2 linked regions of the Homo sapiens genome follow. The protein of the gene in region 2 purifies or fractionates together with the protein of the main gene of each other region. This does not show direct contact. Each region holds a gene or a part of one and is shown on either strand. Other genes may lie near its edges.

Evidence for each region.
Region 1: the proteins of PAICS (region 2) and ASS1 fractionate together in Homo sapiens (co-fractionation; one large-scale study listed by BioGRID). This does not show direct contact.

The regions. Positions count from the first base shown.
Region 1 is NC_000009.12:130,447,876-130,451,527, reverse strand, and holds part of ASS1 (argininosuccinate synthase), read right to left. Parts: intron 1,673-3,652; exon of another isoform or gene 1,573-1,672; intron 1,257-1,572; exon of another isoform or gene 1,195-1,256; intron 1-1,194. UniProt on the Homo sapiens protein: One of the enzymes of the urea cycle, the metabolic pathway transforming neurotoxic amonia produced by protein catabolism into inocuous urea in the liver of ureotelic animals.
Region 2 is NC_000004.12:56,449,639-56,453,290, reverse strand, and holds part of PAICS (bifunctional phosphoribosylaminoimidazole carboxylase/phosphoribosylaminoimidazole succinocarboxamide synthetase), read right to left. Parts: intron 2,673-3,652; coding exon 2,589-2,672; intron 1,420-2,588; coding exon 1,239-1,419; intron 1-1,238. UniProt on the Homo sapiens protein: Bifunctional phosphoribosylaminoimidazole carboxylase and phosphoribosylaminoimidazole succinocarboxamide synthetase catalyzing two reactions of the de novo purine biosynthetic pathway.

The sequences.
Region 1 (3,652 bases), on a different chromosome or scaffold from region 2:
TTCACTGGCTGGAATTTTAGACATCGTGTCTCCAAATGTGAGCGCCTCTGAATTCAACTCTGCCAATGCCCAGTTTGGAGGGGCTCAGAGACCAACTTCCCCCAGTGTGGAGGTAGAGAAACTGAGGCCCAGGGAGGGAAGGCGATAGACAGGCAGAGGCCTAAGACCTCTGCAACCAGCGGCCCTTCCCGGGGGGACAGATGGGCACGAGGGCTCTCTGCAGCCAGGCCCTCTGCAGCCGGGAAGTGCCTGCGGTCTCCCATCCTGCCCCACCCTCCGTCACAATGAAGCCTCCCGAAGGCGCCAAGGCCTCCTGTCTCCTGATCTTTGCAGCCATGCTTCTTCCCCGAGGGCTCTCCCTGAATCCTGGGCTGCCCTTGGGCTCGCCCTGCACCCCCCTCCCCCACATGCCTCCTGTGGCCCTGGGCTTGGGCGTCTTCACTGTGTCCAATTTGCTGAACAGGAAACCAGGGTTAGGGAGACGAGGTCACCTGCCCAGGGTCATCGGATCAACAAGCAGCAGGGGCAGATGTGGGCCCAGGCCTCCTGGTTCCAGCCTCCGTGGACACCTGGCCCCAGCATCCCGCATTTCCCAAATGTACAGGGCATGTTTGTTCTGCCTGGGAACGTTTCCACTGGAGTCTGACCAACGTCACAAGGTCAGAGTCACCCAGGGTCTTTATTAGACACTACTGGGGAAGTGGAGCCCAGAAGGGTCACCCGGCCATCACCATTGCAGTGATGCAGGCATCGCTATCCTGAGCACTCTCTGTGTGCCTGGAAGCTCGGGGAGAGGAAGTGCCTTTCCCAGGCCTCCCGTCCTCTGCTGCAGAGCCTGGCCGTGTAGCCAGGTGGACTTTGGAGCTCCGTCACATGAGAATTCAGTCCCGTGCATGCTGCACGGTCCCACCTGCCAGTCAGCCGGGGCTCACAGGCCTGTGCTGCCCTTTGGACTTAGAAGGGGAAACACCTCATGGACCATGCAGCTGGGGCAGAGAAGATGGTTCTGGTCGGTGCCCACAACGTCCCTACTGGGCATTCAACCCCCTGCCCCTGAGTTGCTGGTGACTCAGCCAGCCCTAACCCTGGAGCCAGCAGGTGGTATCCATGGCAACTGCAGCCAGGCAATTGGCCATGCAGGATGGAGGGAAGGAGGGAGGAAGGCAGGCAGGGAGGACTTAAGGTGGGCAGTACCTGGGATTGGAGGCGTGAGTTCCCGGCGTCTGGAATCTGTTTTCACAGTGCAGTGAACCACTCTGCAAAAGCAGAGCTACTCAGCTGCCTGCAGGTAGCCTGGGCCATCCCAGAGGCCCTAAACCTTACTTTCCAGCCGCCCAATCTCCTGTGAGCAGCCTCACTGAGCAGAGGAGGTCCAGGAGCCCCAGAGCCACCTGTCCTGCCTCCTGCCTCCTGCCCCCTGCTCCAGAAGGCATTCAGGAAATATGTGGAAGCCTACCCCTGTTTGCGTGTGATGGCGCGGGTGGTGTGGTTGGGTTGCGGGAAATTCTGTTGTATGTTTTAAAACAGCTCTATTGAGGTCTACTTGACATATCATAAATTGCATTTTTTAAATATCAGATGGGTAATGTGCCAACATCATAACAAAGTTTGAGGGTGGCACCTCACACACACACGAGAATACCCAATCAGCACATTCATCAACTACAAAAATAATCGCATATTTTTTTGTGTCCAATTTAGCAAGTTTCGGCGTGCGGATGCGCCCGTGACATCAACACCACAATCAAGGGAATAGACATGTCCGTCTTAGGCTAAGCCCTTCCATCTGGGGTTCTCTTCATTTTAGAGTCAGGAAAACTGAGGCTTGGGCTGAGGAACTTGCCCTGCATCTCGTTTGACTGGTAGGCAGCAGAGCCAGGACTCCAACTCAGATCAGCTCGGCTCCTTAACCCCCTGCTCATAGGTACAAGACCACCACTGGAGACTCAAGGAAGGGAAGTCCTGGGCAAGTGTGATCTGATGATGCTGGCCCAAGATTCACCCAGCTCTGAGAGTCACCCCTGCTCCTGCCTCCTCCCAGAGGCACCTGGAGCCAAGAGAGGCAGCTCCACAGAAACACGGAGGGGCAGCTCCACAGAAACAGCTGGATCACCTGCATCGCCTCAGTGACCCGCCATGCCTCCTGCCCATCAGAGCTGTATCCTTTTTTTTTTTTTTTTTTTTTCAGACAGGGTCTCATTCTGTCACCTAGGCTGGAGTGCAGTGATGCAATCTCAGCTCACCACAGCCTCCACCTCTTGGGCTCAAGGGATCCTCCCATCCCAGCTCAGTGCCACCACCCCCAAGTAGCTGGGACTACAGGCACATGCCACCACACCTGCCTAATTTTTGTATTTTTTGTAGAGATGGGGTTTCACTACATTGCCCAGGCTGGACTCGAACTCCTGGACTTAAGCGATCTGCCTGCCTCAGCCTCTCAAAGTGCTGGGATTCCAGGCATGGGCCACTACATCCGGCCATCATGCTGTATTCTAACTGCCCTCTCCCCCACTATGAGCTCCATGGAAACAGGGACCATCTCCCAGATGCCTGTGGCAGGCACTTAGAACAATGCTACTAGTTCCACTCTCTGGAGGTCAGCTCCTCACCGCAAAAAGAGGGCTGGGGTGCCCTGAAGCTGTGGAGTCCTACACATGCTCTCATGGCCGAGCACAGTGGTTCATGCCTGTAATCCCAGCACTTTGGACGGCCGAGGTGGGTGGATCACTTGAGGTCAGGAGTTCCAGACCAGCCTGGCCAACGTGGCAAAACCCCGTCTCTACTAAAAATACAAAAATTAGCTGAGTGTGGCGGCACACACCTGTAGTCCCAGCTACTTGGGAGGCTGAGGCACGAGAATCGCTTGAACCTGGGAGGTAAAGGTTGCAGTGAGCCAAGATCGTGCCACCACACTCCAGCCTGGGTGACAGAGTGAAACTCTGTCTTAAATAAACCAAAAGAAACCAGTGAGCCCCTCCTGCCTGCCAGGTTGTAGCTGGGCAGGTGTGGGCTCTGAGGCCTTCAGCCTCTGGGGCTGGGCAGTGTGAAGCAATGCATGGACCTGGCGTGTGTACCTGAGACAGTGTGTGTGTGTGTGTGTGTGTGCGCGCGCACACACCTGTGTGCACCCAGGGGTGCGTACCTGAGAGTACACAATGTGTGTGCATGCATGTGTGTGATGTGTTTGGGCTTGCACATGTGTGCCTGTGTGCATGCACACGTGTGTGGGTGTTGGGGCCAGTGTATGCATGCAGAGAAATGAGCTGGGCAGATGGGCTTGGGAAAATGATGCAATCAGACAGCAGCGTTGCTCCTGCCCTCCCAGCAGCGGGTGGGGCACCCCCCTCCCTCAGCCTCCGCAGGTCCCTAAGCTGCATTTGCAGCCCGAGGCAAAAACTAAATGAAACTGAGGGTTTGATGTCGGGGGAGGAAGTGACAGGGAGAGAAGGAACCACAGCTGCAATCCAGTGAGCGCTCACTCCAGGCACAGGACAGAGGTCAAGTCCACCAGACATGGGTTTGAGTGGCTTCAGCTCTCTAGCATAACTGCTCAGCTGCAAAATAGGGGTGCAAACAGCCTGCTCCCCACAGGGCGACTGTAAGGATTGGGTGAGATGCTGGGGGAAGGAGCCCAGAGCTGGGCACCAAGCAT
Region 2 (3,652 bases):
CTGGCCAAAGTGAAGAATGACACCATCTGAACAGGTGTCTTTCTTGACTGGGTGGTCCCTCAACTGGTGCAGGGAGAACCAGTTAATATAAACTAGGGGTTTAGGGACACGTCTTCAAACAAGAGTTGAAGGAAAGTTTAATTAATATAGTGTCCCCCAAATTTTAAGGCCCTTTGATACATTTTTTAACATAATCTCTTAAGCAATTCATTCTTTGATAAATTTATAAATTATCCTCCTGTTTCCTAAAGCAGAGATTTGTTAACCTAGAATCCAAAATTGTATGTATTTGCAATTTTCTGAAAAGAGTTCTAGAATTCATTAGCTATCAAAGGAGTCTGAGTTCCCCCAACCTCCCACTCCCCCAAAATTAGTAACTACACTTCCATAGCAACAACCTGTACACGAAATAATCAACATTTTTTTCCAGTTGAGAAACATTTGGTTGTAAACCCAGGGCTCCATTATTTTAGATCACTGCTATACCATTATTTTTTATGTACTATATTCTGAAACTGTTCTTTAATTTCCTATCTGACTGCCTCCCAGGAAAGGGTGGCAACTAAAGATTCCCGGGAGAACCGGCTATTTTAACCTCCCGCCTCCTGTAACTGTGGGGGCCTATTTTCTATTGGAGTATATTAGAAGCAATGCTCCAGGGGCTTCTTACCAGGTAAGGATGCCAGAGGTTCTCATCATTCTAGTCTTTGTTTTCTTTTCATACTTGCATTTTTAATTATTTCTCCCTGCTCCTTTCTTTTCTAAGCTTCTAGAATACCTTAAGCTCTTTGGAGGTGAGTATTAAGAAAGCCTAGCGGCCAGGCGTGGTGGCTCATGCCTGTAATCCCAGCACTTTGGGAGGCCAAGGCAGGCGGATCATGAGATCAGGTCAAGACCATCCTGGCTAACACAGTGAAACCCCGTCTCTATTAAAAATACAAAAAATTAGCCGGGCATGGTGGTGGGCGCCTGTAGTCCCAGCTACTTGGGAGGCTGAGGCAGGAGAATGGTGTGAACCCGGGAGGTGGAGCTTGCAGTGAGCTGAGATGGCGCCACTGTACTCCAGCCTGGGCGACAGAGTGAGACTCCATCTCAAAAAAAAAGAAAGCCTAGTATATCATGTGTTTTTCCCTTAGAAAACTGACAAAGCTCTTTTTTCAGCATTATTAGTCTAAAGTGTGTAATTACTTTTAGCAAAATCAGAAATACCTGAAATGTCCATATTACTTGTGGTTTACCTTCATACTCAGCTTTAATCCTCAGAGTTTCATCTGGTCCTTTATGCGCAGATGTTACTCGAAGTTCACATGGAATGCCAAAATTTCCACAGGCCTTCTTGATTTTTTCACAGTGACCAAGATCAGAAGTAGAGCCCATCAACACTACAACCCTGCACTGACTTTCTGATTTCAAAAGCAACTGAAGAAAAAATACGTGGATATGAAAAGAACATAAAAACAAAAATGAATAAATGAGCTAGAGTTTGTAGTAAAATTATATCTGGGCCCAATATTTTCTTTCTTAACAGATCAAATTTAAGACAGAGACAAACAACAAAAAGACAGGATTTATTTTTAAAAATCTCAATATATAAAGGAAAGTGGTCTTCATCAAGACCTAAAGAATTCAATTTTTATCAGACAAATTATTTAAAATAAACAGTAAAGATACTCAAAATCTTTTAATTTTCAGGAAATTATAATACAAAATATTTCATCCTAAGACCTTTAGTGCACTTTGTTTAATGGAAGCTTTAAGGTATGATTAGCCAAATCAGAAGTCATGTTCTAAGTCTTTGTAAGTTAATTGCTTGTAACTCAAAATATATATTCCTATAAGAATAATGTTCTCAAATGTGATTATGACCCTTGCATAATCACAAACCCCATTCAACTCCCAGAATTATAGTAATACCATAAAACTTAAAGGAATATTTAAAGTCACACAGAGTTCCATCCATCCCATGCTAATGGAACTCTGACTAGCAGTGCAGGTGAGTAGGAAATATAAGGTTTCTCCTACGGGGTAGGGAGGAGACAGATTCCAGGTTTCCCCAACAGGATCTGGGAGGTATGTATTGGCCAGCTTAACAGCACGGAGTTCCAGTATCCTAGTAAGGATAGCCCAGCTGATACATTTCCTAAAAGTGTTCCTCACTTTCAAAGTCACTGAAGAGCTGGGCGTGGTGGCTCACGCCTGTAATCCCGGCACTTTGGGAGGCCGAGGCAGGGGGATCACGAGGTCAGGAGATCAAGACCATCCTGGCTAACACGGTGAAACCCCGTCTCTACTAAAAATACAAAAAATTAGCTGGGCGTGGTGGCCAGCGCCTGTAGTCCCAGCTACTCGGGAGGCTGAGCTAGGAGAATGGCGTGAACCCGGGAGGCGGAGCTTGCAGTGAGCTGAGATGGCGCCACTGCACTCCAGCCTGGGCGACAGAGCAAGACTCCGTCTCAAAAAAAACAACAACAAAAAACAAAGTCACTGAAAAGAAAAGCACTATACTCTCCCATTTTTTTTTCTTTTGAAACAAGATTTTCTTAGAAGAAAAACACATAATACATACAGTTTTACTATAGAAGGTTTACCTCTACTCTCTCTGCAACCCACTCAAAGTTTTTCTTTACCATTTGGAGCCCTTCAGGAGTTACTTCTTTGAGGTCCCGATAAGACTAGAAAATAAGATAGAAAGTTTAGAAAACAAGTATCTCTTGCTACCTGAAACTATTTGGTTTCTGAGTTTTGGGGAGGGATTATGAAGAGTTTGTATAGCAAGGGATACTTCTGAAAATGCATCTTTTCACTTCCTGAATTAAACTAACAAAGTTCCATAGTAAAGTATACTTTTATTTTCACTTAAGGTTAAGTGTTTTCTGTACTAGCAACTACAATTAACTGCCTTGAGAATTTTTATATATTAAGTATAGAAAGGGTCTTGCTCTAATTTTGTTTTCTGTTATTTTTTATTTTAAATACATGTGCAGAATGTGCAGGTTTGTTACATAGGTATACATGTGCCATGGTAGTTTGCTGCACCCATCAACCTGTCATCTAGGTTTTAAGCCCCATATGCATTAGGTATTTCTCCTAATGCTCTCCCTCCCCTTGCTCCCCACCCTGCAACAGGCCCCGGTGTGTGTTGTTCCCCTCCCTGTGTCCATGTGTTTTCAGTGTTCAACTCCCACTTATGAGTGAGAACATGTGGTGTTTGGTTTTCCGTTCCTGTGTTAGTTTGCTGAGGATGATGGCTTCTAGCTGAATCCATTTCCCTGCAAAGGACATGATCTCATTCTTTTTCTTTCTTTTTTTTTTTTTGGAGACAGAGTCTCGCTCTGTCAACCAGGTTGGAGTGCAGTGGCACAATCTCGGCTCACTGCAACCTCCACCTCCCGGGTTCAAACAATTCTCTGCCTCAGCCTTCCGAGAAGCTGGGATTACAGGTGCCCACCACCATGCCTGGCTAATTTTTTTTTTTTTTTTTTTTTGAGACAAGGTTTCACTATCTTGGCCTGGTCTTGAACTCCTGACCTTGTCATCCACCTGCCTTGGCCTCCCAAAGTGCTGGGATTATAGGTGTGAGCCACCGCGCCTGGCCAATCTCATTCTTTTTTATGGCTGCATAGTATTCCATGGTGTGTGTATATCACATTTT